Homo sapiens: one gene and its partners. The protein of the gene in region 1 purifies or fractionates together with the protein of each later gene. This does not show direct contact. Each region holds a gene or a part of one and is shown in the gene's direction. Other genes may lie near its edges. The genes, in order: SLC2A4, ATP8A1, FKBP10, STRN3, OCLN, ATP6V1A and WDR73.

Region 1 (4,046 bases):
GGAATCGAGCCTGACTTCTACCATAGGGGTGACTGGGCGGGTAATTCATTGAAATAAGGAAGTTAGGAGGAGGAGCAGGTTTGGACATGCTGATCACTAGAGCTGCCACATCCGGGCGGTAACGAACACCTGGATCTGCAGCTCCAGAGAAGGGCCTGGGTCAGATGTCACTGAAGCCCTATGGTGGCGGAAAGGCGAGAAATAGTGGGTTGAGATTCCAAGTGCAATCCACTGCGGCTCCTCGCTCGCCCTCCAGGTGGCAGCACAACCCTGCGCTTCCGAAGCCCGTTTTCTGAGCCAGACACTCTCCACGCTCTGGGTATTTCGGCTTCTCTCTCCCCACACGCCGACCCTAGGTCGCGCACTTTCTGCCTGGCAGAATTTGGCCGAGGATCCAAACCCGGAGCAGCCTCCAGAGAGCGTGTCGTTCACGCGGCCAGCATATGCTCAGAGACCTCAGAGGCTCAGAGACCTCAGGGCTGGTGGTGTGGTCGGTTGTGACCACTTGTCCCTCGGACCGGCTCCAGGAACCAACCTGGGGAATGTGTGTAGGGGAAGGGCGGGATAGACAGTGCCCGGAGCAGGGAGGCGCTGAAAGACAGGACCAAGCAGCCCGGCCACCAGACCCGTTGTGGGAACGGAATTTCCTGGCCCCCAGGGCCACACTCGCGTGGGAAGCATGTCGCGGACTCTTTAAGGCGTCATCTCCCTGTCTCTCCGCCCCCGCCTGGGACAGGCCGGGACGCCCGGGACCTGACATTTGGAGGCTCCCAACGTGGGAGCTAAAAATAGCAGCCCCGGGTTACTTTGGGGCATTGCTCCTCTCCCAACCCGCGCGCCGGCTCGCGAGCCGTCTCAGGCCGCTGGAGTTTCCCCGGGGCAAGTACACCTGGCCCGTCCTCTCCTCTCAGACCCCACTGTCCAGACCCGCAGAGTTTAAGATGCTTCTGCAGCCCGGGATCCTAGCTGGTGGGCGGAGTCCTAACACGTGGGTGGGCGGGGCCTTTTGTTCCAGGGACTCTTTTCTCAAAACTTCCCAGTCGGAGGCTGGCGGGAACCCGAGAGGCGTGTCTCGCCAGCCACGCGGAGGGGCGTGGCCTCATTGGCCCGCCCCACCAACTCCAGCCAAACTCTAAACCCCAGGCGGAGGGGGCGTGGCCTTCTGGGGTGTGCGGGCTCCTGGCCAATGGGTGCTGTGAAGGGCGTGGCCCGCGGGGGCAGGAGCGAGGTGGCGGGGGCTTCTCGCGTCTTTTCCCCCAGCCCCGCTCCACCAGATCCGCGGGAGCCCCACTGCTCTCCGGGTCCTTGGCTTGTGGCTGTGGGTCCCATCGGGCCCGCCCTCGCACGTCACTCCGGGACCCCCGCGGCCTCCGCAGGTTCTGCGCTCCAGGCCGGAGTCAGAGACTCCAGGATCGGTTCTTTCATCTTCGCCGCCCCTGCGCGTCCAGCTCTTCTAAGACGAGATGCCGTCGGGCTTCCAACAGATAGGCTCCGAAGTAGGATTCATCATGAGGGGGCGGGGCGGGGGGGCACGGGTCCCGCTTTTCTTGGGCTGGGGTCGCGGTTGGGGTCAGCTGGGGGTGGTTCCTGCGCAGGCGCAGGGGGTGAAGGTAGGGGGCTGGCTATTTATACCCGGCCTGGACAACCCGTGACTGTGAGATTCCAATCCTACCAAAAGGCAGAGTGGGTCTGGAGGGCCTTTCGGGGCACAGGCAGCAAGTGGATTCTGCGAGCCAGGGTTCACCCCCTTGCCTAGTAGGCGGCGCGGCGCTCCGGAATCGGGGACACCCTGCCCTCGATCCGACTCGGGAAAGCAGATCCAGGCGGGTCTTGCCCTCCGGGAGCTGTCCGTCCGTCTTCGCTCACGGGCAGTGTTTCGAGGACCGGAGGCTCTCCGTGGGCCCCCACCCCCACTCCTGGCCGCCCTCCAGGACGCTGAACTTTCCCTTGGCCCCATGGTTGGTGGAGGGGCAGAGGGGACTGTCAGCCCCCCCTCCTCCAGCTCAGGTTTCCGCTTGGAGACAGTCTGTGCCGCCAGCGAGCGGCCACCACTGCCACCGCCCCTCACACTACCTTCCTGCCCTCCTCCCCTGGGCATGGCTCTCCCAGGCAGAACCCCTGGACGGCCCTCCCTGCACGGAGGTTAGAGGGGGAGGGCAGGCCACGACGTAGATAGAGAAGGCCACCCCTAGATGACCGGGATGTCCTTTCTGGAACAGCACTTCTTGGTCCTGTTGGGGGCCTCCTGGAGCTGGCTGACAGAACCCCCAGAGGGGAGGGAAGAGGACAGTGGCTGATGATAATAATGCACGTGTTAATTTATGAAACCAGCACTGTCAAGGATATTGTTAACATGTGATGTTGATTTTCACAACACTCTCACAGATAGGTAGGCAAGGCAGGCAACATCACCCCCATCTCACAGAGGACACTCAGGTTCGGGGCAGGGAAGTGACTTGGCCAAGGTCACACAAATCTGAGCTCTTAAGGCCAAGCCTGTCTCAAGGTCACAGAAGAATTTTGAGACAAGTTCTCAAACATTTCTCTGCCTTATGGACCCAAACATCCAGTTTCTCCTTTATGCCCAGGTTGCAGTTCAGCTCCTGTTTACATTGAGATCTTTGTGCAATTCCTAATATGGCCCAGTTTCCCTCACCCAACATGTTGGGTGGAGCCCAGTATCTTCAGGCTCCAGCTGGGCCCGGGCCCCTAGCGGAAGGAAAAAAATCATGGTTCCATGTGACATGCTGTGTCTTTGTGTCTGCCTGTTCAGGATGGGGAACCCCCTCAGCAGCGAGTGACTGGGACCCTGGTCCTTGCTGTGTTCTCTGCGGTGCTTGGCTCCCTGCAGTTTGGGTACAACATTGGGGTCATCAATGCCCCTCAGAAGGTGAGGGCCTGCAGCTGGCAGGGTGGGGGTACCCAAACGAGGAGGACAGGTGTCTCGGGGGTGGTGGAAAGGGGACGGTCTGCAGGAAATCTGTCCTCTGCTGTCCCCCAGGTGATTGAACAGAGCTACAATGAGACGTGGCTGGGGAGGCAGGGGCCTGAGGGACCCAGCTCCATCCCTCCAGGCACCCTCACCACCCTCTGGGCCCTCTCCGTGGCCATCTTTTCCGTGGGCGGCATGATTTCCTCCTTCCTCATTGGTATCATCTCTCAGTGGCTTGGAAGGTTCGCAGCTGGAGGGCAGGGGTGGGGGAAACAGGAAGGGAGCCACTGCTGGGTGCCCTCACCCTCACAGCCTCACTCTGTCTGCCTGCCAGGAAAAGGGCCATGCTGGTCAACAATGTCCTGGCGGTGCTGGGGGGCAGCCTCATGGGCCTGGCCAATGCTGCTGCCTCCTATGAAATGCTCATCCTTGGACGATTCCTCATTGGCGCCTACTCAGGTACTCACGGGCACCACAGCCCTGCCTAGCGCCCTGTTCTCTTTCACCATGCCTGGGCTTTCAGATGGGAATGGACACCTGCCCTCAGCCCTCTCTTCTTCCCTCGCCCAGGGCTGACATCAGGGCTGGTGCCCATGTACGTGGGGGAGATTGCTCCCACTCACCTGCGGGGCGCCCTGGGGACGCTCAACCAACTGGCCATTGTTATCGGCATTCTGATCGCCCAGGTGACCGGAGCAAGCCTCATGGGTGCCTGGGCAGTGGTTAGAGTGGGGCTCTGGAGAATATGGTGGGCTTCCAAGGTAAGGCAGAAGGGCTGAGTGACCTGCCTTCTTTCCCAACCTTCTCCCACAGGTGCTGGGCTTGGAGTCCCTCCTGGGCACTGCCAGCCTGTGGCCACTGCTCCTGGGCCTCACAGTGCTACCTGCCCTCCTGCAGCTGGTCCTGCTGCCCTTCTGTCCCGAGAGCCCCCGCTACCTCTACATCATCCAGAATCTCGAGGGGCCTGCCAGAAAGAGTAAGCTCTCCCGCTGCAGCCTGGCCCAGGCCCATGCCTCCGCCTCATCTTGCTAGCACCTGGCTTCCTCTCAGGTCCCCTCAGGCCTGACCTTCCCTTCTCCAGGTCTGAAGCGCCTGACAGGCTGGGCCGATGTTT
Region 2 (3,500 bases), on another chromosome or scaffold:
TACAAAAGAAAGAGGTTTAATGGACTTACAGTTCCACATGGCTGGGGATGCCTCACAATCATGATGGAAGGCAAGGAGGAACAAGTCACGTCTTACATGGGTGGCAGCAGGCAAAGCAAGAGAACTTGTGCAGGGGAACTCCCCTTTTCAAAACCATCAAATCTCTTGAGACTTATTCACTATCACAAGAACAGCATTGGAAAGACTTGGCCCCATGACTCAATTACCTCCCACCAGTCCCTCCCACAACACATGGGAATTCAAGATGAGATTTGGCTGGGGACACAGCCAAACCATATCACTTGCCAACAGAAATACAATGCAAGCCACATTAGCAAAAAGCAAAAAAAAAAAAAAGAAAGAAAAAATTGATCTCAGTATATTTTATCTAGCTCAATGTATTCAAAAGATTATCATTGTCACCTGTAATCACTGTCAAAAATTATTAATGAGACATTTTACATCCTTCATCCTAAGTTTTCAAAATCTGGAGTATATTTTACATTTATACCACGTCTCAATTTGGACTAATCACATTTAAGTGTTCAAGAGCACGTGTGGCCAGTCTCTACCATGCTGGGCAGCACAGCAGTGGTAGATAAATAAGTGAACTGAATGGTTAATCAAGGCATGATAAATATGTTATTTGCCTTTTTTTAAAAAGTTGCCTTCTTATTGTCAGAAGCTATATGTGTAGTAATTCTAGGTGTTATCAGTTTCATGTCCCTGTTGGAGCTCTGCAGATCATGACAATGGCCTTCCCATTGTTAAGAAAACCTCATTCTCCCACTCCTGTCAAGGACCCACCATGGTCTCATAAATCTGCTGAGGGTTCCCTTACAGATAGATGTTTGTTTCTGCCACTTTACCATTTAATCTGTTGACTGTTTCTACACGTCTGTCAAAAAAGATACAGCCAGGCTGGGTGCGTTGGCTCACGCCTGTAATCCCAGCACTTTGGGAGGCTGAGGCGGGCAGATCACAAGGTCGGGAGTTCGAGACCAACCTGGCCAACATGGTGAAACCCCGTCCCTACTAAAAATACAAAAAATTAGCTGGGCATGGTGGCAGTTGCCTGTAATCCCAGCTACTTAGGAGGCTGAGGCAGGAGACTCATTTGAACCAGGGAGGCAGAGGTTGCAGTGAGCCAAGACTGTGCCACTGCACTCCAGCCTGGGCAACAAAGCAAGACTCCATCTCAGAAAAAAAAAAAAAAAAAAAAAAAAGATCCATCCATTTGCTATATGGAAATCATATTCTATCCTTTACTCTGAGAAGTAACAGTATAAACAAAGTCAGTACGTTGACACTTTCGTTGGGGGCTGGTGTATATTTGCTTCACCTGTTCTTTGTGCCTCTGTCAGAATGCTTATCTCCTTGTTAAATGTTGACTGAGCATAGTTCTTATTATGAGTCAGGCTAGTAAAATTGAAACTTAGTTTTGAAGTGTACAGGCAGTTTGGTGTAATGGTCACTAAAAAGGTTACAACCTATTAGATAAAATAACCTAATACAGGCCAGGCGCAGTGGCTCACGCCTGTAATCCTAGCACTTTGGGAGGCCGAGGGGGGTGGATCACGAGGACAGGAGATCGAGACCATCCTGGCTAACATGGTGAAACTCTGTCTCTACTAAAAATACAAAAAATTAGCCAGGCGTGGTGGCAGGCGCCTGTAGTCCCAGCTACTTGGGAGGCTGAGGCAGGAGAATGGCGTGAACCCGGGAGGTGGAGCTTGCAGTGAGCAGAGACCACGCGCCATTGCACTCCAGCCTGGGTGACAGAGCGAGACTCTGTCTCAAAAAAATAAATAAATAAAAATTAAAAAAATAACCTAATATGTGGAAATATAAACAAGATACGTAAATGAACTTACTCGTTCATTACTGCTAGATTTGGTCTGGAATAGTGTGTGTTTTGAAGCAAAATGCACTTCTAAAATAGTTTATAAGATTCAAAAAAATATTCTTTGTTGTTTATATAAATGTGTAGTTCTTTTCTAAAGTAATTATTTTTCTATTCTCAATCCCTTCTATATATCTAGCTTTTCTATTTATATGTTCTTCTCATTCCAGAACACTGACATTCAAGCAAATAACAATTTATACAGTTTATTTACATAGATTTATCAAGATACCAGGAATTTAAAGCCACTGCCAGCAATAAATCTGCTTATAAAAAGTTAATTTTATAAAATAAGAATGTCCAACTTGTCGCTTTTTAAATCTAAATTGACAGCAATAAAGTAGACAAAATTTATGTACTAATGAGAAAATAAAAACATTAAAATCAAATGAAAACAATCTTCATGCCCTGTCCTGTTTCAAACCCAGAATTATGTGATTTGTGGTTGATTAACCCTAAACTTCACTTGCCTTTGATTTTAAAACCTGTTCATGAGATATTTGACACTGATCAAATTCTTTACACAGTGAAAAGGAAGTGAGTTCTAAACTTTACTGGAAATCTCATTTTTATTTTTCTCAAGAGTTTGTGGAAATGTATTTTGAATATGATTCAACTGTCTTGGTAATGACCTTTTAAATCAATTCCCAGATACCCAACTTTTGCCAGCTAAAACAAGTTCTGCAGATGTTAATGGCTCATGTCAATACTGTGAATGAATAGACAGAAAACACATCATTGAATGTCTCTAGTGAGGACAACTGCCAGTCTCGAATCTCTCCTTTCAGTTTTTTGTGCTGATCAGGCGTGGGAGCAGAGGACTCATTGACTGTTTGTAAGCTGCTGTTTAATATGCAGAAATGCTCCATCAGGAAAATGAATGTGAAGCTTTAGCTGCCACGCCTCTACTGGGAGGTGGAATTTAGAAAATAATGCCAGGAGAAGCAGGTCTGAAATTTCTATGCTAATAAAGGAATAGTCTTGAACACTATGTGTTTTATAGATTTAAAACTACAAACACTGCTTTTCTCCTTGCTATATTGCTTAGGAAAGTCACTATCTAGATATTCCATTGCTGTAAATTACAGCCAGACGAATACAGATTTGGCAGATGGTGGTATAAAGCTCTTTCTTACAGGAGCTGCCCAGGAGCAGCTCTAGGTGTTCATTTAAATTATTGGCTCCTTTTAAAGAGAGATTTTTTTTTATTTCTCTGATATGTCTGACTCCTTCCTCATAAAATAAGACCTTTCCTTTCAAATGATTGGTCACATCCAAGTTTTCTGGGAAGATCTCAAAACCAAGTTGTGTTTCTAATTTCCAGAAGCTTTGATAAAAGTCAATAAGGTGATACTGTCCCAGCAAGTGGTGCTGGGAGTTGAATTCCCTGTGAATTTAAATAAACTAGACACCTCCCCAGAGGGACCGGTGTTTTCTTTCTGAATCTGTGGCTCTGGTTGAATTAGAGGAGGTACTTTTATGTGTTTGGGATAATTTAGATGTTGTTTTATTTTGCACGGGATATGTTCCCAATATTAACTACAATCTCAGCCTAACTTGAAATCGGCCTGCTGGTAGGCTACTTCACTGTTAAAGA
Region 3 (3,500 bases), about 35 Mb from region 1:
GCATGCCTGTGATCCCAGCTGCTACTTCGGAGGCTGAGGCAGGAGAATCGCTTAAACCCGGGAGGTGGAGGTTGCAGTGAGCTGATTGCACCACTGCACTCCAGCCTGGGTGACAGAGCCGAGACTCCATCTCCAAAAATACATATGTATAAGTAAAAATAAATACATTAATTAAAAGTGTATAACTAAAAACAAACAAAAGCCATGGCACTTTTAGAATAGGCTTTTTTTTTTTTTTTTTTTTTTGAGAGGGAGTCTCACTCTGTCGCCAGGCTGGAGTCCAGTGGCACGATTTCGGCTCATTGCAACCTCCGCCTCCCGGGTTCACGCCATTCTCCTGCCTCAGCCTCCTGAGTAACTGGGACTACAGGCGCCCGCCACCACACCTGGCTAATGTTTTGTATTTTTAGTAAAGACGGGGTTTCACTGTGTTAGCCAGGATTGTAGAATAGGCCTTTTCAAAATGTGAAACCAGCTCCCACCCCACCTCTGCTCTCCCGTCTTTTCTTGGAGAGCCAATAGTATAATGGCAAATTTTAGAACTCAGCTGACTACATATTAGCTGTGTGACCTTGGGCAAGGCACTGAGTCTCTCAAGTCTCCATTGCTCTCATTAAGAAAAATGAGAACAAGAATGCCCACCTCACAGGGGAGACAAAGAAGATACGGAATGTAAAATGCCAAGCATTTAATCCCATATAGTAATGCTCCTCTGCCCCTCCGTGCTGTACGTACCACTCCCCACTTGCTGTCAGCAAATAGTAGCAGCCATCAGGCCCGGGCATCCCACCCAACCCCGTCCCAGGGCAATAGCAGCCCTTGTCCTCCTCAGGGACTTGCCTTTCACAACAGTCCGTTCTCTTAAGGTGGGCGTCACGGCCGACCTAGGAGGGGGACTTGAAAAGGAGGTGAGAAGTGTGTGTGCGTATCCACACCTGGCTATAGGGAGGGGGGATTGTGTGCGTGTGTGCAGGCACACCTGTGCATCTGTGCCACCATGGGCAGTGTGTGTGTGTCTGAGGTCACTGTATCCCATCTGTCCCTCCCCCCCCAGCTATGATCGCAACACCTTGGTGGCCATCGTGGTGGGTGTGGGGCGCCTCATCACTGGCATGGACCGAGGCCTCATGGGCATGTGTGTCAACGAGCGGCGACGCCTCATTGTGCCTCCCCACCTGGGCTATGGGAGCATCGGCCTGGGTGAGAAGGGCTGGGGCACAGGCCGGGGGTGGAGGAGACCACGAGGCAGAATCAGGGATCCTGGGGTGAGAAAACTGAAGTGCGGAGATGAGGAGTGACTTGCCCAATGTCACACTGTGCACGCAGTATGAAGAGTGGCAGCTCTGGCTGGGGCAGTAGCTGACATATATGGTCCCAGAGTTTTGGGAGGCCGAGGTGGGAGGATTGCTTGAACCCAGGAGTTCCAGACCAGCCTAGGCAACATAGTGAGACCTCGTCTCTACAAAAAATAAAATAAATTATCCAGGTGTGGTGGTGTGTGCCTGTAGTCCCAACTACTCAGAAGGCTCAGGTGGGAGGATTGCTTGACCCCGGGAGGCTGCAGTGAGCCATGATCATGCCACTGAATTCCACCCTGTGTGACAGAGCAAAACCCCTCTTTTTTTCTTTTTCTTTTTTTTTTTGAGACAGCATCTCACTCTGTTGCACAGGCTGGAGTTTAGTGGTGCGATCTCGGCTCACTGCAACCTCAGCCTCCTGGGCTCAAGCAGTCCTCCCTCTCAGCCTCCCAAATAGCTGGGACTACAGGTGCACACCACCACACGTGGCTAATTTTTTGTATTTTTAGTAGAGATGGGGTTTCGCCATGTTGCGCAGGCTGGTCTTGAACTCCTGGGCTCAAGCCATCCACCTGCCTTGGCCTCCCACAGTGCTGGGATAACAGGCATGAGCCACTGTGTCTGGCCCCCTATCTCTTAAAAAAAAAAAACAAAAATAGTGGCATCTCTGTCCCTGGTTTGGGTCTCTTGGTGCTGGGATGAGAGGAAGGGGAATAACAGGGCCCTGGCTGGGATCGTGGTTGGCAGAGCAGAACTCTGAGACCTCCACGCTGCTGCGCTCTCACAGCGGGGCTCATTCCACCGGATGCCACCCTCTACTTCGATGTGGTTCTGCTGGATGTGTGGAACAAGGAAGACACCGTGCAGGTGAGCACATTGCTGCGCCCGCCCCACTGCCCCCGCATGGTCCAGGACGGCGACTTTGTCCGCTACCACTACAATGGCACCCTGCTGGACGGCACCTCCTTCGACACCAGGTGAGGGGCTGGAGGGGAGCCCTGAGGCACTGGGGACTGTGGCATGGGGAGCGGGAATCCGGGGCCCAGCCTGCCTCTCCCACCTCCACCTCATTTTCTGCAGCTACAGTAAGGGCGGCACTTATGACACCTACGTCGGCTCTGGTTGGCTGATCAAGGGCATGGACCAGGGGCTGCTGGGCATGTGTCCTGGAGAGAGAAGGAAGATTATCATCCCTCCATTCCTGGCCTATGGCGAGAAAGGCTATGGTGAGGGTGGGCAAGGACACAAGGGGAAATTCCGCAGAAGAGGGAAAAACCAGGCCTCCACATACAGTTGCTCAGGTTGTATACTGCACGAGGGCATCCAACCAAGGACTCAAGGTGGGATGAAATCTACCCTTGGTGCTACTAAGAAGGGGTGCTTTGGCCGGGCGTGGTGGCTCACGCTTGTAATCCCAGCACTTTGGGAAGCCAAGGCGGGAGGATCACGAGGTCAGGAGATCGAGACCACGGTGAAACCCCGTCTCTACTAAAAATACAAAAAAATTAGCCGGGCGTGGTGGGGGCGCCTGTAGTCCCAGCTACTCGGAGAGGCTGAGGCAGGAAAATGACGTGAACCCGGGAGGCGGAGCTTGCAGTGAGCCGAGATCGCGCCACTGCACTCCAGCCTGGGTGACAGAGCGAGACTCTGTCTCAAAAAAAAAAAAAAAAAAAGAAGGGGTGCTTTATTCTGATTCACACGAAGGCTCAGTATGAGCCGGTGGTGGCCCTGGGGAAAACCCAGCTCAGGTCTTACTGGAGGAGCAAGAAGCAGGGCTGCTGATGGGCGGGAAAGGGCTCTGGAGAGTGGGGCTAGTGTCTTGCATGGTGCCCACTGGGCCTTCCTGAGTCAAGAAGGAGCCTCGGCTTGCTCCCCAATTTTATGGTTCAAGCCCTATCCCTTCCCCAGGGACAGTGATCCCCCCACAGGCCTCGCTGGTCTTTCACGTCCTCCTGATTGACGTGCACAACCCGAAGGACGCTGTCCAGCTAGAGACGCTGGAGCTCCCCCCCGGCTGTGTCCGCAGAGCCGGGGCCGGGGACTTCATGCGCTACCACTACAATGGCTCCTTGATGGACGGCACCCTCTTCGATTCCAGGTCAGGAGGGTCTTGAGGTGGGAGGGCGGGGGCTGGGTGAAACGTGGACGAAGCTGGGGGTCACTCTGAGCTGCCTGGAAGGGGAGGGCCCCTTTGACTCCCTT
Region 4 (3,500 bases), on another chromosome or scaffold:
TACTGAGCAGAGATCACCACTGCATTCCAGTCTGGGCTGGTGACAGAGTGAGACCCTGTCTCCAAAAAAAAAAAAAAAAAAAAAGTACCAGTCAGGTGTACATGTTCTCTTAAAACAGTTTTTAGATATTACATAAATTCAGAGGTTGGGGGAATGGAGATTTGAGTTTCTTCTTAGAATTTATCAGTAATTTGTTTTTCCTCTCTTCCTACAATAGCGGCCCTGTTCTGTCATTAGCTATTAGTTCTAATGGAGAACAGTGTTTTAGTGGTGGTATTGATGCAACCATCCAGTGGTGGAATATGCCGAGTCCCAGTGTAGATCCATATGATACATATGGTAAGTAAAATGATCAAAATGTATTTTTTTTAAGTGAATGGAGCTGACAAAAGTAAATACCTCAAATATGATTACAAGGTTATTTAAACCTATATTAGTCACCTCATTTAGTTCTTCCATTTGCTAATAAATTGCTTTATTAAAGAGAAAAATTAGGAAATGTCATGCCATGGGTATTTAAGCCTATGAATTGATACTTTCTCTGTTGTTTAAAAAACTATATTAATTAAAATGTTAATTTAGGTAGTAGTTACAAAAAGAAGGAGGAAACAAAATGTAATCTAAGTAACAAAATTTTGAACTTAAGAAATAGTTTATATATTTTAAAAATATTAAGCAAAAGACAATGGAACCAACATCAGGGGTATAAATCATTAAAACTTTTTGGAGCCAAAAATTTTTTTTGTTATTCTTAGCTCATATCTACAAAAACATTCTTAATTTCAAAATGGAAGAAAAAAAAAAAGAAAGGAAACCTCCTTTGACTTGCAAATGTAGCTTTTAGAAATCTGTTCTACAGAAACACCTACCTGTACCTGTGTTCAAATATATTTGTAAGGGCACTGTTAATAATTATAAAACGTTAAAACAAAATGTTTATGAACTCTTTGTTCTTTTTATTTAACACACACATTGTGCCTACATTAGCTAGGCATTGTGGTAAGCACTATGTCAAGAAATAAGATTTAGACTAATGGAAAGTAGAGACATAAAACAGATAAGCGAAGGGATGGGATCTATGGTTACAAATTGTGATAAATGATAAGAAGATAGAGTACTGTTGAGAGGGCGTAACAGGCAGAACCTTCTCTAGAAGAGTTAGTCAAGAAAGGTCTTTCTAAAATAGTGACATTCAAGCCAAAATCTGAAGGATAAGAGGAAACTTTCAGTAAAGAGTTTTAAGCCAGAAAGTTATCTGATAAATGTAAGGTTTTAAAAAGGTGACTGTGTCTGTTGTGAGAAGAATAAATTGGGGGCGAGAAGAGTGGAAAGAGAAATACCAGTTAGGAGGCTGCTGTCATAAAGTAGTCCAGTAAACTAGGTGACAAACGACATTGCCAAGATTAGAGTGGTGGTAGCACAGCATTTAGAAGTGGTTTTAAGATACGCTGAGGGAGTGTGGTAGAATAGACAGGATTTATTGATAAATTATGTTGAGTAGATAAAGTGATGGGTGAGTGACTCTTAATTTGTATGTGTTTAACTGCTTTACTGAGATAATTTACATATCACAAAATTCACCCTTTTAAAGTATACAGTTCAGGCTGGACACAATGGTCCATGCCTGTAATCCCACCACTTTGGGAGGCCGAAGTGGGTGGATCACTTGAGGCCAGGAGTTCAAGACCAGCCTGGGCAACACAGTGAGACCTCATGTCTGCCAAAAATTTAAAGATTTGCCAGATGGGGTGTCACATGCCTATAGTCCCAGACACTCGGGAGGCTGAGCTGGGAGGATCACTTGAGTGTGAGAAGTAAAGGCTGTAGTGAGCTATGATGGTGCCAGTGTACTCCAGCCTGGGAAGAGAGTGAGACCCAATCTCTCTCTCTCTCTCTCTTTCTTTTTTGGAAACAGTCTTGCTCTGTCTCCTAGGCTGGAGGGCAGTGGCGTGATCTTGGCTTACTGCAACCTCCGCCTCCCAGGCTGAGGAGCTGGGACCACAGGTGTGAGCCACCACACCGCACTAATTTTTGTATTTTTTGTAGAAATGGTGGCCATGTTGCCCGGGGTGGTCTTAAACTCCTGGGCTCAAGTGATCTGCCTGCCTCAGCCTCCCAAAGTATTGGGATCACAGGCATGAGCCACTATGTGCAGCCACAAGACCCCATCTCTAAAAAAAAATTAAAGTCTACAGTTCAGTAGTTTTTACTATGTTCACAAAGTTGTACAGCCATCATCACTAATTTCAGAACATTCACAAAGTTTTACAGCCATCATCACTAATTTCAGAACATTTCAAACATTCAGAACATTCAGTCCTGTTTGATGTGAGTAACTGAGCATGTGATGGGAGCATTTATTGAAACGAGGACAGAACAGGTGTGAGGAGATTTAAGATGGTGAGTTCAGATTTTAGGCATGTTAAAGGATGACAAATATCAAGTAGGTAATATACAAATAAGGAGCCCAAAGAGATCTCGATTGAAGTTAAAAACATGGACAGTCTTCTCTATACAAATAATACATTAAACTATAAGAATGGGCAATACTGGGGGAGTGTATTGTTTGGTGTAAGAAGAGAAGACAACCTGGGACTAAAGTCCTCAGTAACTCTGACACTGGAAGAGTGGCTAGAGCAAGAGAGCCAAGAAAGGAAACTGAGGAGGTGTGACCCAAGAGACAGAAGGAAGTGCAGGAGAGGGTGCGAAATCATGGAAGCGCACACTAAAGAAGAAACAATTTTGAGAAGAAAGAAGCAGTCTGCACTTTCGAATGTTGCTGAGAGGTCCAATAATATGATATAAAGTTTCCTTTTTATAAGTGACTAGCAGGTCACCCAGGTCTTGGCCAGACAGAGTTTGGACGCTGCAGCTAAGACTGAAGAATGAAGGGACCTCTGGATAATCTTTCATGTCAGACTATATGGATGAAAAGCAATATAATGGGAACAACAACAAAATGTTTTGTATCATCAAAGAAAAGTATTAAATTTGATAGTGTAGGGATCATCATTAGCAAGGATTGTTTTGGTGTGGTAGTGGTATCAGAAACCAAATTGGAGTGATTTGAAGAGTAAACAGGAAGTGAAAAGCATATTTCTATTGCTGGGTGGAAGGGGTGGTAGGATAGGATTAATGAAGATTTTTTGTTGAAGAGATTCTGGAACAAGTTTTTTTTCACTATGGTAATGATTCCAAGGAGGAGAATTTGTGTAGTAGAGAAGCAGTAAACATTACAGCAAGTTAGTGACATCTGGTATTAGCCTTTGATAGGATGGAGGACAGATTCCTTGCTTGTATCTGGAAGCTAGGAGAAGATACCTTTAGACACTAATCATTTATATATTACGCAGCAAGAAGATGGGGGATAAGAAACATGCAGCATTATTTGAATGCTATATTTTCTCAGTGAAATATGAGGCATAGTCATTCATGAGGAAGAGAGGTTGGGAGCTGTGAGAATTGTGGAGATGATAAGAACCATTCATGGAAAGTGGGAG
Region 5 (3,500 bases), on another chromosome or scaffold:
GTTAATAATTACAAAGCACTATTCTGTTTTTTTTTTTTTTTTGAGGTGGAGTCTCGTTCTGTTGCCCAGGCTGGAGTGCAGTGGCGTGATCTCAGCTCACTGCAAGCTCTGCCTCCCGGGTTCACGCCATTCTCCTGACTCAGCCTCCCAAGTAGCTGGGATTACAGGTGCCTGCCACCACGCCCGGCTAATTTTTTGTATTTTTTTTTTTTAGTAGAGACGGGGTTTCACCATGTTAGCCAGGATGGTCTCGATCTCCTGACCTCGTGATCTGCCCGTCTTAGCCTCCCAAAGTGCTGGGATTACAGGCGTGAGCCACCGCGCCCAGCCCCTACAAAGCACTATTCTATGTACATCTATCCTTTCCTATTTAAAATAAAATAGCCAGGCTGGGCATGGTGGCTCATGGCTATAATCCCCACACTTTGGGAGGCCAAGGCAAGTGGATCACCTGAGGTCAGGAGTTAGAGAATAGCGTGCCTAACATGGTGAAACCCCATCTCTACTAAAAATACAAAAAATAGCAGGGCATGGTGGCAGACACCTGTAATCCCAGCTACTCGGGGAGGCTGAGACAGGAGAATTGCTTGAACCTGGGATGGGGGAGGTTGCAGTGAGCCAAGATTGCGCCATTGCACTCCAGCCTGGGCGACAGAGTGAGACTCCATCTCAAAAATTAATAATAATAATAATAAAATAGCCTTATTATCTTTCCTATTTATAAAGCCATTCATTCTTTCTGTAGAAAAGAACTTAAGCGGCCGGGCACGGTGGCTAATGCCTGTAATCCCAGCACTTTGGGAGGCCGAGGTGGGCGGATCATGAGGTCAGGAGATCGAGACCATCCTGGCTAACACAGTGAAACCCCGTCTCTACTAAAAAAAAAAAAAAAATACAAAAAATTAGCCAGGTATGGTGGCGGGTACTTGTAGTCTCAGCTACTTGGGAGGCTGAGGCAGGAGAATGGTGTGAACCCAGGAGGCGGAGCTTGCAGTGAGCCAAGATCGCGCCACTGCACTCCAGCCTGAGTGACAGAGTGAGACTCCATCTCAAAAAAAAAAAAAAAAAAAAAAAGAACTTAAGTAACACAGAACTGTATACAGAAAAAGAAATCATCTTAAATCCTACCATCAAGAAATCCTTATCACCAAAATATTAGTTAAAACAATCTCTCCAAGCAGGAGTCACCAAGGCACATACACCTTTCTTTAAGGAAACATCATCTTCCATGTTTCACTTATTTTCTTCCTGTCTTTTAAATCAACAGTTTATGGGTTTTTTTTTTCCCTCCCTTGATCACCTGGCTGAGATAGAATTTGTCCATGTAAAGTTACTGGATTTTTTTTTCAATCCATCCTTTTCATACTGTATTTTGTATACATACTGAAATTAATGTAGTTACACCACCTTTTAGAGGGAGATTAATCTCTTCTTGTTTATTTGTTCCTTTATTGATCAGTCAATCACTTACGTAAGTATGGACTTTACAGATACCTGTTTTATACTGTGAATTATAATCCAAGGCTGCTTTATTTTGTAGCTCTAATTGTTCTCGCTTTGACGGTTGGGAACTTTCAGTTGCTTCCCGTGTCCCTTTGACATACTCTTATTGTGGGGTTTTATCTTTAAAAAAAAAACAAACAAAAAAACTTCCTTGCACTGCTTATTTCTGGCTTTTCTTAACAGCAAGTTTTTTTTTTTATATCAATAATAAAGACCTACTTACTTTTAAGTTTTTTATGTGTAAAATTAGGTAAACAACTTTCAAATTTATGGTTGTATCATAATTTAAGAGTCATTTTCTATGGATAGACATTTAAGTATGTCTCCCCCTACTCCAGTAGTACCAGTATATACTGGTGAACCTCTCTGTTTTTGCACTCTTGTCTACTTATCTAATTTTTTTTTTTTTTTTTTTTTGAGACGGAGTCTTGCTCTGTCGCCCAGGCTGGAGTGCAGTGGCGCTATCTTGGCTCACTGCAACCTTCGCCTCCTAGGTTCAAGTGATTCTCCCGCCTCAGCCTCCCGAGTAGCTGGGATTACAGGCATGTGGCACCACACCTGACTAATTTTTGTATTTTTAGTAGAGACGGGGTTTTGCCATGTTGGTCAGGCTAGCCTCGAACTCCTGACCTCAGGTGATCTGCCTGCCTTGGCCTCCCAAAGTGCTGGAATTACGTGTGTGAGCCACAGTGCCCAGCCTGCTTATCTAACTAAAACTAATTCCAGAATGTGAAATTGCTGAGAGTCAGAGGGTACGTACCTTTGCAAAGTTGCAAAATTGCCCTCCAGAGAGACTGCACCAACTGTGTCTCCCTCTTGATACAATACAGGACTCATTTGATGCACATCTCATTAAATATTCTGCCATTTTTCAGTTGAGGTGATCTACTTTTTAGTTTTGACGTATTCACATCTTTATATAGTTAGATTTATGTATTTCTTTTATGGTTTCTATAGGGTGTTATAGATCTTTCTTAATTTAGTGAACATTTATTGATCACTTATTTTTCTTTGATGATGTGGAAATGCTGGAGCTAGAGACATAAAATCTTGTCCCCACCCTAAAAGAGCTTATATTTTAAGAAAAAAAACCTGACATCTAAACAATTTAGACAGTATGATTAATGCTGTATTTGCATCATGTGTAGAAAGCACTATAACTAACTGCTCATAGAAGAAATAAAGTCTTTGGAGGCTTCACAGTGAGGGAATCGTTAAGAGCTTTCCAGACAGAAGGGTGCGGGGAGGTGCATGATTACAGCCATAAGGAAAACATGATTGAAATCCTGAAGCATTTAACATGTCTCAGTTTTTAAAGGAGTTGCTGATGATGGGTACTGAGACTGGAAAGGTAGGAAACTGGATGAGGGGAGAAGTTAATGGGAAGCTCAGACCAGTTGTGTAGTGGGATATTACCTGATCAGCGAGCGCTCTGTGTTATAAAAGATCTTCCTGGTGTCAATGTAGCATGGGGACTGGCATGAGGAGAGATGAGAAGTAGCAGAACAGATAGTTACCTGCCTATGTGAGTGAAATGTGAAAGATACAGTATCATAAATGTCTCTTCACTGAATTCCTTCAGACCTTCCTGCTGATCATGAGTTTTAAGAGCTTTACGACTTCATTCTTTTAATTGCTTATATTTTTGTCATAAGCTGTCATTTTTAGCTCCAAAGTATAACATCAGGAATGTTACTTTTAAAAGAGAAAATGCCCCAGTAAACATATTCCTTTGTGTCTGTCGTTAATAGGCTGCTGCTGATGAATACAATAGACTGAAGCAAGTGAAGGGAGTAAGTATCCGAGATTGTTCTTTTAGGAAGAACTTTCTTTCTTCTTCTTTTTATTTTAATTCCCATACCTACTCATCTGGAGGAAGAGCTTTTCTATTACATGTTTTTCATTTTTTATTTTATATATTTTTTAAAAGTTGAAGTATACATACAGAAAAGTGTATAAATCAAAGTGTATAACATGGTGAATTTTCACAATGTGAC
Region 6 (3,261 bases), on another chromosome or scaffold:
GGCTCAGGCAGGAGGATGACTTGAGCCCAGGAGTTCAAGACCAGCCTGGGCAACATGTCGAAATCCCGTCTCTACAAAAAATACAAAAGATTAGCCAGGTGTGGGGCACACACCTGTAGTCTCAGCTATCTGGGAGGCTGAGGTCAAGGCTGCTGCAGTGTGCCATGATCCCACCACTACTCTCCAGCCTGGGCAACACAGTGAGACCCAGTCTCAAAAAACAAAAAAAATTAGTATGTCACGTCTAAAATAAATGCTGATGTGTATTCCCTTTTGTCTTAGTTGCCAGGCAAATTAGAGCTTACTTCATAGCTGAGCAACAGTTGCCTTACTCCAAGTGCCTATTAACCTCTAGCACATGTGTTCTTCTGAAATGACATCTTCTCTGTTTACTTCTTTTAAATATCATGTACTGCAGGTCATTTTTTAACTTTTTTTTTTTTTGAGACAGTCTTGCTCTGTCATCCAGGGTGGAGTACAGTGGCACAATCTCGGCTCACTGCAACCTCCACCTCCTGGGTTCAAGCGATTCTCCTGCCTCAGCCTCCCAAGTAGCTGGGATTACAGGTGCCTGCCACCACGCCCAGCTAATTTTTTGTATTTTTAGTAGAGACGGGGTTTCACCATGTTGTCCAGGCTGGTCTTGAACTCCTGACCTCATGTGATCTACCCGCCTCGGCCTCCCGAAGTGCTGGGATTACAGGCGTGAGCCACCGCATCCAGCCATTTTTTAACTTTTAAGTGGCCTCTTGTTCTTTTGGAAGTACACAAGATAAAAATAGATAATTAAATGAAATTATTAGTAGGAACTCAAATGTATAAGATTGTTTTTAAAATATTTGATCAGTTGAATTGTATTTATTTCTGTCATGACATCCAGGCATATTTACTAACCACCTACTGAGAATGATTCTCTGAGTGTATATGTAATATAAAAATTTTTAAATTATATATATATTTTGTGTGTGTGTTCACACTATAGATTGAAAGTAAACCTGTACAAATAGGTAAGCACTACATTGAGAGTTTAAAAACATTTACACCTTTTTAGTCTTGTCATTTCACCTTGAGATAAATAAACAAAGGAAGTAATCAGAATTTTGATACGGATATACACGGTCGTTTATTAAATTCTTTTTCTTTTTTTTTCTTTTTTTTTTTTTGAGATGGAGTCTTGCTCTGTTGTCCAGGCTGGAGTACAGTGGCACGATCCTGGCCCACTGCAACCTCCCCCTCCCAGGTTCAAGCAGTTCTTCCTGCCTCAGCCTCCCAAGTAGCTGGGATTACAGGTGCATTCACCACACCCAGCTAATTTTTGTATTTTTAGTAGAGACGGGGGTTTCTCTATGTTGGCCAGGCTGGTCTTGAACTCCTGACCTCAGGTGATCTGCCTGCCTCAGCCTCCCAAAGCGCTGGGATTACAGACATGAGCCACTACGCTAAACCAAATTTCTTAAATGTCACCCAAGAATGAACAGAGCCAACAGTACATTATGGTGTGTCCATAAGATAGATATTATGAAGGCATTACCATTTTTGTCAAAAATATTCAAAGACATGGAGAAATGCTTATGGCACAGAGTGAAAAAACTTCCATATGTAACTTGATCCAAATATTGTCTTAAAAAACTATATATTCATAGAAAGAGGATGAAGAAGAAATATACCTGTAGTAATGATGATTTCTATTTACATGCTTATTGTGTCAAATTAACATCACAGGTATTTTTTAATGTCATTACTCTTCTGTAGCATTGTTTTGTGGCTGGAGAGTAATATTTTTCTATTCTTAGACACTTAGAAAATTTCCAGTTGTTGGCCGGGCGCATTGGCTCACGTCTGTAATCCCAGCACTTTGGCAGGCCGAGGCGGGTGGATCACCTGAGGTCAGTTCTAGACCAGCCTGACCAACATGGAGAAACCCCGTCTCTACTAAAAATACAGAATTAGCTGGGCGTGATGGTGCATGCCTGTAATCCCAGCTACTCAGGAGGCTGAGGCAGGAGAATCACTTAAGCCCGGGAGGTGGAGGTTGCGGTGAGCTGAGATCACACCATTGCACTCCAGCCTGGACAACAAGAGCAAAACTCTGTCTGAAAAAAAAAAAAAACAAAGAAAAGAAAAGAAAATTTCCAGTTATTGGTGTGGACAACCATGTAGTTGTGTGTAGTTGGTTTTGTGCATTTTCTTAGTATGGAGTCCCAGAAGTGGAATGATTGGGTTAGAGACCTGGAACATTTTAAAGTCTGTCTCTTTTTTTTTTTTTTTTTTTTTCTGAGACAGAGTGTCACTCTGTCACTAGGCTGGAGTGCAGTGACGCGATCTCAGCTCACTGCAACCTCCGCCTCCTGGGTTCAAGCGAGTCTCCTGCCTCAGCCTCCCAAGTAGCTGGGACTACAGGTGCACGCCACCATGCCCAGCTAATTTTTTTGTATTTTTAGTAGAGACAGGGTTTCACCATGTTGGCCAGGATGGTCTCAATCTCCCGACCTTGTGACTCGCCTGCCTCGGCCCCCCAAAGTGCTGGGATTACAGGCGTGAGCCACCAAGCCTAGCTAAATTATCTTTTATACATATTACTCAGTAAGTTGCCTAAATTTTACTTTTCCATCCCAGTGTGATAATACCAGATGTTGAGCAAATTCTGTTTTGATTAAATTAATTCCTAATTATCATGCATTAAGTCATGTTCATCTAATATATGAAGCGGCATAATTTCCCACTATTGTGCACATTGTTGAGGATAAAGGCTTTGGTCACTGAATGTGGTTATCAGGCAAAATGCAAAATTAAAATTTTGTTTTCTTTCTGTTTGGTTGGATTTGTATCCTTAAGAAAAAGGGAAAATGAGTATAGTTTTACCTCCTGCCTGTGGTTTACCAGTGTCCCTCACTAAACCTAGTACTCAAAATATATAAAATACGAGTAACCTGGGCCAGGTGCAGTGGCTCACGCCTGTAATCCCAGCACTTTGGGAGGCCGAGGCAAGTGGATCACTTGAGATCAGGAGTTCAAGACCAGCCTGGCCAACATGGTGAAACCTGTCTCTACTAAAAATATGAAAAAAAAAATTAGCTGGGCGTGATGGTGGGCGCCTGTAATCCCAACTACTTGGGAGGCTGAGGCAGGAGAATCACTTGAAGCCAGGAGGTGGAGGTTGCAGTGAGCCAAGATCGTGCCACTGCACTCCAGCCTGGGTGACAGAGCAAGACTCTGCCTCCAAAAAAAAAAAAGTAACTTAACATACGTAATGAAAATTAT
Region 7 (2,749 bases), on another chromosome or scaffold:
CAAAGGCTTCTGTTTCCCCCATCGAGTAGGAGACAAGGCCATCTGCTGAAAGGGACCCAGAGGTAGGGGACTGGACTCTGGGGCAACTTGAAAAGGTTTGAAGAAGTCTCTTAAGCCTCAGTTTCCTGGGTAAAATAACAGTATCTGTGTCATACAGTTCTGAGGATTAAAAGAGCTAATACTTGTCCAGAATTAGCCTTCGAGCCTCACGCATAACAGGTGCACAACGGATGCTCATGGTTACATGCCCCACGGAGTCATCAGCTGCCAACACTGAGGGCAGATGCTACTTGCCCGTGGTTAGCCTTTTAAGTGCCTTGATTCCTCATCCAATAGCCTGTTTTGGTACCATAGAACAAATTATAAAAAGTATTTTAGGGGCTGGGTGCCTGTAATCCCAGCATTTTGGGAGGCTGAGATGGGAGGATCGCTTGAGGCTAGGAGTTCAAGACCATCCTGGTCAACATGGTGAAACCCCATCTCTATTAAAAATAGAAAGAAAATTATTTTAAAATAAAATTAGGGACTCATTGTCAAGCCTCTCTTTTCTGTATTCTCAGGTTTTGATGGTACAGTCCAGGTCTATGATGCCACATCTTGGGATGGAACACGGAGCCAAGATGGAACACGGAGCCAAGTAGAACCTCTCTTCACTCACAGAGGTCACATCTTCCTAGATGGAAATGGGATGGACCCTGCTCCTTTGGTCACCACCCACACCTGGCATCCCTGCAGACCAAGGACTTTGTTATCAGCAACAAATGATGCCTCTCTGCATGTGTGGGACTGGGTGGACCTTTGTGCCCCCCGCTGACACCAGCATCTTTCCATCTAGGCCTCTAGAAAGGGGAGGAGCTGCTGTAGTAGCAAGGGTGCTCATGTAGGACTCAAGTGACTACCAGTCCCTGTTACCAGCTGTGTGGCCTTGGGCAAGTCTGCCAGCGTCACTTAGCCTCAGTTTCCTTATCTGTAAAATGAGGATAGTAAGAACTACCTCGTAGTGATATTGCGAAGGTTAGAAGAAACGCATGGCATAATTACTTGGTAGCTATTGTTAGATCTGGGAGTGTGAAATGGTAGCGTTTTGTCCCTGTCTTCACACTATCATAGGGAGAATCAAAAGAGCTAACAAATATAAACATGCTTTGTGAATTTTTTTAAAGAAAAAAATGTAGAGGGGCCAATAAACATGAAAAAATCCCAGCCCTAGTAGCAATTAAGGAAATAGCAAAACAGGATTTCTGCTCCTCTTGAGTGGGTCTCATGGGAACACAGGTGCACTTTCCCACACTTGTCCCCCCAGGTGACTAGGTTCAAGAGACATTTGCTTTTGGTGGCCCCACAAACATTTCCTTTTGAGGGCCCATAGTGAATATTAAAGTGTGCTGGACATGGTGGCTCATGCCTGTAATCCCAGCACTTTCAGAGGCTGAGGTGGGCAGATTGCTTGAGCTGAGGAGTTTGAGACCAGCCTGGGCAACATAGCAAGATCCCTTCCCTTAAAAAAAAAAAAAAATTTGGCTGGGCATGGTGGCTCATGCCTGTAATCCCAGCAATGTAGGCAGCCAAGACAGGTGGATCACTTGAGTCCAGGAGTTCGAGACTAGCCTGAGCAACATGGCGAAACCTTGTCTCTACTAAAAATACAAGTTAGCTGGTTGTGGTGGTATGAGCCTGCAGTCCCAGCTATTCAAGAGGCTGAGGTGGGAGGGTTGCCTGAGCCTGGCAGTTGAAGTTTGCAGTGAGCTGTGATCATGCCACTGTATTCCAGCCTGGGCAACAGAATGAGACCCTGTTACACACACACACACAAAATAGATAAGTTGTTCACTCTGTCAGCATCTATTAGCCCTTCCCATGTGCAACACTAATTACATGCTAGAAATACATAAATGAGAGGCTTCCTAAGGTGGTTGAATTTTTTTTTTTTTTTTTTTTGTAGTAGAGATGGAGTCTTGCTCTGTCACCCAGGCTTGAGTGCAGTGGCGTGATCTCGGCTCACTGCAACCTCCACCTCATGGGTTCAAGCAATGCTCCTGCCTCAGCCTGCCAAGTAGCTGGGATTACAGGCACGTACCACCATGCCCAGGTAATTTTTGTATTTTTGGTACAGACGGAGTTTCACCATGTTGGCCAGAATGGTCTTGATCTCTTGACCTTGTGATCTACCCACCTCGGCCTCCCGAAGAGCTGGGATTACAGGTGTGAGCCACCGCGCCCGGCCAGGGGATTTCTCCTGTGTGAATTCGCTGGTTAAGTGATAATTAACTGCAGTTAAAATTCAGGTCAAGCATGTGGCTCATGTCTGTAATCCCAGTACTTTGGGAGGCTGAGGTGGGAGGATAGCTTGAGTCCAGGAGGAGTTCGAGATCAGCCTGGGCACCATGGTGAACCCCTGTCTCTAAAAAAAAAGAAAGATTTTTATTTAAAAAACCTAAACAAATTCAGATAGGAATTTAAAGATAGACCAGGCACAGTGGCTCACGCCTGTAATCCCAGCACTTTGTGGGGGGCCAAGGTGGGTGGATCACTTGAGGTCAGGAGTTCAAGACCAGCCTGGCCAACATGGTGAAACCCCGTCTCTACTAAAAATATAAAAATTAGAGACGGGCATGGTGGTGGCACACCTGTAATCCCCACTACTCAGGAGGGTGAGGCAGGAGAATTGCTTGAACCTGAGAGGTAGAGGCTGCAGTGAACCGAGATTGTGCCACTGCATTCCAGCCTGGGTGACAGGGTGAGACTCCAT

What was found.
Region 2: the proteins of SLC2A4 (region 1) and ATP8A1 purify together in Homo sapiens (affinity purification with mass spectrometry; one large-scale study listed by BioGRID and IntAct). This does not show direct contact.
Region 3: the proteins of SLC2A4 (region 1) and FKBP10 purify together in Homo sapiens (affinity purification with mass spectrometry, with the first as the bait; one study listed by BioGRID). This does not show direct contact.
Region 4: the proteins of SLC2A4 (region 1) and STRN3 purify together in Homo sapiens (affinity purification with mass spectrometry, with the first as the bait; one study listed by BioGRID). This does not show direct contact.
Region 5: the proteins of SLC2A4 (region 1) and OCLN purify together in Homo sapiens (affinity purification with mass spectrometry; one large-scale study listed by BioGRID and IntAct). This does not show direct contact.
Region 6: the proteins of SLC2A4 (region 1) and ATP6V1A purify together in Homo sapiens (affinity purification with mass spectrometry; one large-scale study listed by BioGRID and IntAct). This does not show direct contact.
Region 7: the proteins of SLC2A4 (region 1) and WDR73 purify together in Homo sapiens (affinity purification with mass spectrometry, with the first as the bait; one large-scale study listed by BioGRID). This does not show direct contact.

Annotation. Positions count from the first base shown.
Region 1 is NC_000017.11:7,280,472-7,284,517, forward strand, and holds the start of SLC2A4 (solute carrier family 2, facilitated glucose transporter member 4), read left to right. Parts: upstream 1-1,246; 5' UTR 1,247-1,463; coding exon 1,464-1,496; intron 1,497-2,773; coding exon 2,774-2,890; intron 2,891-3,001; coding exon 3,002-3,174; intron 3,175-3,266; coding exon 3,267-3,391; intron 3,392-3,502; coding exon 3,503-3,618; intron 3,619-3,745; coding exon 3,746-3,908; intron 3,909-4,013; coding exon 4,014-4,046. UniProt on the Homo sapiens protein: Insulin-regulated facilitative glucose transporter, which plays a key role in removal of glucose from circulation.
Region 2 is NC_000004.12:42,458,106-42,461,605, reverse strand, and holds part of ATP8A1 (phospholipid-transporting ATPase IA), read left to right. Parts: intron 1-3,500. UniProt on the Homo sapiens protein: Catalytic component of a P4-ATPase flippase complex which catalyzes the hydrolysis of ATP coupled to the transport of aminophospholipids from the outer to the inner leaflet of various membranes and ensures the maintenance of asymmetric distribution of phospholipids.
Region 3 is NC_000017.11:41,816,004-41,819,503, forward strand, and holds part of FKBP10 (peptidyl-prolyl cis-trans isomerase FKBP10 precursor), read left to right. Parts: intron 1-1,054; coding exon 1,055-1,200; intron 1,201-2,085; coding exon 2,086-2,275; intron 2,276-2,378; coding exon 2,379-2,524; intron 2,525-3,206; coding exon 3,207-3,396; intron 3,397-3,500. UniProt on the Homo sapiens protein: PPIases accelerate the folding of proteins during protein synthesis.
Region 4 is NC_000014.9:30,907,880-30,911,379, reverse strand, and holds part of STRN3 (striatin-3), read left to right. Parts: intron 1-217; coding exon 218-339; intron 340-3,500. UniProt on the Homo sapiens protein: Calmodulin-binding scaffolding protein which is the center of the striatin-interacting phosphatase and kinase (STRIPAK) complexes.
Region 5 is NC_000005.10:69,548,290-69,551,789, forward strand, and holds part of OCLN (occludin), read left to right. Parts: intron 1-3,254; coding exon 3,255-3,296; intron 3,297-3,500. UniProt on the Homo sapiens protein: May play a role in the formation and regulation of the tight junction (TJ) paracellular permeability barrier.
Region 6 is NC_000003.12:113,806,035-113,809,295, forward strand, and holds part of ATP6V1A (V-type proton ATPase catalytic subunit A), read left to right. Parts: intron 1-3,261. UniProt on the Homo sapiens protein: Catalytic subunit of the V1 complex of vacuolar(H+)-ATPase (V-ATPase), a multisubunit enzyme composed of a peripheral complex (V1) that hydrolyzes ATP and a membrane integral complex (V0) that translocates protons.
Region 7 is NC_000015.10:84,641,535-84,644,283, reverse strand, and holds part of WDR73 (integrator complex assembly factor WDR73), read left to right. Parts: intron 1-560; coding exon 561-814; 3' UTR 815-2,749. UniProt on the Homo sapiens protein: Component of a multiprotein complex required for the assembly of the RNA endonuclease module of the integrator complex. Associates with INTS9 and INTS11 in the cytoplasm, stabilizing the INTS9-INTS11 heterodimer and blocking the active site of INTS11.